Homo sapiens: one gene and its partner. The protein of the gene in region 2 purifies or fractionates together with the protein of the main gene of each other region. This does not show direct contact. Each region holds a gene or a part of one and is shown on either strand. Other genes may lie near its edges.

The links.
Region 1: the proteins of KLHDC8A (region 2) and TMEM200A purify together in Homo sapiens (affinity purification with mass spectrometry; one large-scale study listed by BioGRID and IntAct). This does not show direct contact.

The regions. Positions count from the first base shown.
Region 1 is NC_000006.12:130,372,517-130,376,016, reverse strand, and holds part of TMEM200A (transmembrane protein 200A), read right to left. Parts: intron 1-3,500.
Region 2 is NC_000001.11:205,335,561-205,337,741, forward strand, and holds the end of KLHDC8A (kelch domain-containing protein 8A), read right to left. Parts: intron 2,033-2,181; coding exon 1,839-2,032; 3' UTR 501-1,838; downstream 1-500.

The DNA.
Region 1 (3,500 bases), on a different chromosome or scaffold from region 2:
ATATTTATAAATTTATTAAATATATTTACGTTATATTTATATTAAAACCCCTTTGTAGGGAGACATACTGTATATGAAATGTCTTCAGCCATATAGTGATATATGACATATCTTGACCATAACTACATATAGTCTCTAATGTGAGCATTGTTTTTGCTCCCAATACCAATATCATCATTACAGTGAGGTAATACTTTGCACTCTTCATCTCAACACTCATTTTTAATAAATGACCTCAAACATCATGCTCCAAAAGAGCAACCTTCTAATGGCTTTCCAGTGCACTGAGTATAAAACCTACTCCAATGCCCCCTCCCCAAATATGTGAGGCTGGCTCCTCATTCTCTCGCAGGTTGTAGCTTAAATGCCTCAAATGCAGAGAGGTCTTCCTTGACCATCTGATCTAAATGAGCGCATGCACTCTCTATGACATCAGATTTCTTGACTTCCCTTACAGCACTTTTTGAATGCCTGAAATTGCCTTGCTCATTTATATGTTTCCTGTTTGTGTCCTCCATTTACAATGTAAGCTCCTCCATAACTTTTTGTTTTGGTCATTACTGGATCCCCAGCTGGCAGCACAAATATTTAATGAATCCTTTATTAATTAATAAACCTTCTCCTGAGCCAAGTTTACTTTTTAACGCATGTTATAAGAGATTTTATGTGTCTTATAAGTAAGTAAATAAATGTATAGGCATAAATTCCTACACAGTGTTCTGCGTTATTGTTGTGTAAGAAGATCTGTCTCATATTTGACAAAATGAGTCATAATATAATTTAACAGCACCTGCTGAATGAATCTCTCTAAATAATCATTTGTTGAACAAATGAACGAAAATAATTTTGTTCAAAATTACTGACTGAGATCCATAAAGGAGAATAGAGTTATTACAATAGAATAATATCCTTCAACTTTTAGAAGAAAACCAAAACATTTTTTATTTTAGTTGTAAATTATTTTTGTAGGAATATAATAGTTGTGGAAAAATTGAAATTGGCACTCAAAAACCACCTCAAATTGACTGCTACTGTAAGTTTAATAGTTCCCTTTACTCTCAGTAAGTGTTTTTAGACAATAAAATACCCTGCAGAGGTATGTGTAAGATCCAAATTCCTCTTCTGGAATAAGTCAAAGTTCATTGCCATAAAACTAGGTACTGTGATGTGGTTGAATTTTCTTTGGAAAAGAGAGTAAAACCAGAAGTTTCAAAATTCAGGAAGTTTGTTTCTGGGCAATCAGTGACTAACATTATAGAAGTTTTCTAGGGGAAAAATCTCAAGCATTTTCATGGCCAGGTGAGGTTGCTCACACTTGTAATCCCAGTACTTTGGGAGGCTGAGGTGGGTGGATTACCTGAGGTCAGGAGTTCGAGACCAGCCTGGCCAACATGGTGAAACTCCATCTCTACTAAAAATAACAACAACAAAAAATTAGCCTGGCGTGGTGGTGTGCCCCTGTAATCCCAGCTACTCGGGAGGTTGAGGGAGGAAAATCGCTTGAACCTGAGAGGCGGAGATTGCAGTGAGCTCAGATCATGCCACTGCACTCCAGCCTGACTGGTGACAGAGCGAGACTCCGTCTGAAAAAAAAAAAACAAAAACAAAAACAAAAACAAAAACTCAGGCATTTTCAGATCCCACCTCCCAGCAAAACTTTGTCTAAGGTCATCTGCTAGGGACATAGCCATGGACAAAACAGTTACAGGCCTGCTCTCACTTGGGTTACAGCCCCAGTGAAAAGTGCAGTTAGAACACTCCATGACTACTAGGACCTAATATCCAAGGCTACAGAGGCGGGGCTGTCAGGGGTTTAGCTCTGCAAAAAGGGGCTCTCATCCTACATCAATCAACTTCTCTCACGGGCTGTTCCACAGCAGAGTCTGAAGAGTCCCCAAACAGGATATGTATAACACTGGCTTTCAAAAAATCATTCACAAGCTACTTTTTTCTATCATGGGCCCCTATCTGCATGTTCAGAAACATAAGTAAATTTTTAAAAGTGAAATGAATCACAATATCTTACATAGTCTACATTCTAAAAGGGAGATTTGGGTAACAAAGGAACAAAATCAGCAGTTAGCATAAACTATTCTTTTTTTCAAAATGGTGGCTTTTTTAAATTTAAAAATAAAAACAATCACCTAGTGAGAGCATGTGAAGGGTAGTTCCATGCACTGTCAGTCATAACTTCAGTTATTTGAAAATCAGTTTGGCATTAAGTATCAAGAGCCTGAAATTTTCATACCCTTTGACCCAGGAATTATCGTTCCACGAATCTTTTTAAAAGAAGTAATCTGATAAACATATATAAAATGGAATATAAATGCATTTATAACCCTTATGCACAAAAAACAGATTCTGAAATTTGAAGAAAGATTCATCAAAGTGCCATTTATAATATCAAATATTTGGAAATGGCCTAAAAGTTCAATTTTAAGGGAATAGTTAATAAATTATGATATGTCCACATAATCCAATATTATACTGACATTAATAAAGCTTGTCTAGAAGTTGGAAAATATTAAGACATAAGATTAAGCAAACAGAGTAGGTTGTAATACACTATTAAGCATTATGGAAAAAATCATTAAAAATAAGGAGAAAGAAAATGCCAAAATGTTATGAGTGCCTTTGGGTCATAGGATTACAGGCAAATTTTCTCCCTGACTTTTTATACTTAATGTATTTTTCTAAGGTTTTTATTGGGAGTGTGTATCGCCTTTATGATTAGAAAATCTAACAACATCTCTTCAGAAATGCTAACTCCATTTTATTGCAAATACTTGCACATGTATGTTCACTAAGCCGATCTGACTTACTTTGCCAAGGGAAACAAAATTTGTGTCTCTCCTATGCCAACCTCAGCTTAGAGACAGTACTGAGATTCTTTGGATTCATCCTGCATTTAAGCCCAAAGATGTTGATTCTCAAAAGGAAAATACTTTTTTTTCTCCCCAGCAGTTGCTAATCTATCAGCACCTCTGTGATTAGCTCACTATTTACAAGAAAGAGCCTACTCCTATTCACCATTGCTTTTGTGTCACAGGCCTCTAATATTCTTTGCATATCTCTACCAGCTTTATTTCAAAGCATTGTAACCATTTGTTTACATATTATTCTATTGAGTTGTTCTAAAAGTTTTACACATGGTTGTTTTACCTCTCCGAATAGGCTACAAGGTTCTCATAAATACTTCTATTTTTATACACCTTCTCATTCCCCTTCCTCTTGTTGTACATACATACACAGTCAATTGCGCACACATCCAGTCACACACCTAAGCAGATACAAATTTGGCCTTGTATTTGTTGGGGAACGATATGATGTCACTCACATTCTATTAGTAACTCATTTTATTTAGAGCATCCTCAAGTACACACCTTTGTAACTAGAGTGTTTCATGAACCTGCTACATTCAGCATGTGCTAGCGAGTGTCCTCTCTCCCTCTCTATATGTATCTACTTCTCATTTTTTCACATTTCAGGGCAGAGTATCT
Region 2 (2,181 bases):
GGCACTCCAGTTGCTAAACACCTTTCTTGGGTAGGGGATTGAGGAGACAGGATGCCTTTGGAAGAGCATCCCCTAATGCACAGTTCCATCATCCCTTATAGTATCTGCAGCTCCTCCAGCTCCTGTTTCTATCTGTTACTTCAGGGGCTGAACTCAAATATAGGGATCCAGAAGCAGCAGGGGAGGCCTCTCTGCAGTCTCCTCACTAGGGGGCAGCAGCGGCTACGGGAGGCCTCCCAGCCCTGGGAGGGGGAAGGGAAATGCTGGGCCAGCAGGTGGCAGTGCCCTTCTTGGACCCAAGTAAGGAAAAAGTCCAAGTACCCAGAGAAAGGGAGGGGAAAAAAATCCGTATCCTGTAAAGACCCAGGTTCCACTTGTCCTTGAAGATCCCGCTGAAGGTGTCACACTCCCTCCCTCCAGGAGGCTCCCTGGACCCCTCAGATCCAGATAGGTGATCCTCCTCCATTCCTGCCTCCTGGAGAAAGAATTACACTATCACCTGATGAGTGATACCTGACTCCTCCAGAACCCTTCAGGGCAGGCATTTTATTCATCATTTATTTTAAAAATAACTGGGAGTCAGAAACAGATGCTAAGAGGAGGCACATTCTTCAAGTTTTCTAAAAGAACCCTTTCTACTTTGGATAGGACAAAAATGAGCTTTGGCTGAATGAACTGAGACTAGACATAAGAAGGACTGAGCTGCTGATGAGTTATGAATGGAAGACTAACACGCAGTCTCAAGGCAGGAGAAGAAGAACATGTGCTGTTTTCCTGGGAGTGGGGCAACTGGTGGTGGCTGTGAGAAGGCAGAGCTCTTCAGAGGGGACAGCCAAGAACAGGTAGTCACTGGGGGCCCTATTTAGCCTGAGAATGCAGGAGGGATTGTTTTATGGGGTCCTCCCTGCCCCTCAAGACACCCTTCCGCCCCATCCCCACACCAGGGTGCTAGAGAAGATAGGAATATAGATTTTAATCATTGTGCTGCTGCTATTAACCAGAGTGCAATTAATCCATCTTTTGTGGATTTTGATGCCACAGTGTAAATGAGAGGGTTTCACACAGAAACACTCTGGGGGCCTTCGGTGACAAAAGGGCTAGGCCTCTGGTGGGGAGGGGGTGGCAAAAGGTGAAGTGGAATTAGGAGAGATGTGGGGAGCAGACCCAGGGCTGGGAGACTGCTCCTTCCCCATCACACATGCCCATCAAGGACCCCAAGAGGAAGGGATTCTTCCTGCCATGGCCTGGGCTGTCCAAGTGAGCCTGACTTCCCTTCCAAGGCAGCTGCCTCTAGCTTCATGTCCAATTCTCGCTGAGTAGATGAGGTCCAGGGTAGGCCCACAGTTGACCACCAAATGGTGAAGAGATATAAGCCAAGGGAGAAGAAAGTGGTTTGGAACCCCCAATCATTCTCCATTTTTCATCCTAAGCTACCTTAAAACTAGTTCAGAGCTGGGGAAAGACAGCAACAGCAGTCTATCCTCTCGGTCAGAACTGCTCTACCTGCCTCCTGGAGATGGGGGTGGGGGGAGGTGGGACTCACAGGAGGGAGAGGTAGGAAATATTCCTGTGCCTTTCTTTGCCTGTGCAGTAAGTGAAGACTCTCTTCAGAGTCAGCTCTGCAGCTGGTGGAGTCATCTGTGCCTCTTACAGTTTTCTGAGATTGGTAGGATTTGGAGCTATAGAGAGGTCAACTTAGAGCCCCAAGGCCAGACTCCACTGGTTGCTAACAGGAGCTGACATTCTTGGAAGTAGCCCCGACTGCTTGGACAAGATCATTCCTCATGTTAAGAGTGAAGTGATATGGTCCAGGGCAAAGGTACTGAGCCCAGAGACAGCTAGGAGTCAGAGACACACAGGGCCTCCACTGCGTCACTCAGACCCTGGTTGACACCTCCCACGGCGAGGAGGCAGTTCTTGACGACTATGCTGGAGCAGGCACAGCGGGGTGTGGGCATGGCAGGGAGGATCTCCCATTTGTTCTTCCCTGGGTGGAATGCTTCCGCCGTCTCCAGGACAGTGGGTTGATTCCCTGAAAGTGTCAAGGGAATCAGACCTTACAAAGGAGTCCAACCACCAATCCATGCCCCACGGTCACCCCACCTCCCTCCCTTCGGCACCCACAAGCAGAAGCCAAGCAAGGTCAACTTCCTTGGCTACAGGATTACTCCCTTTACTAAG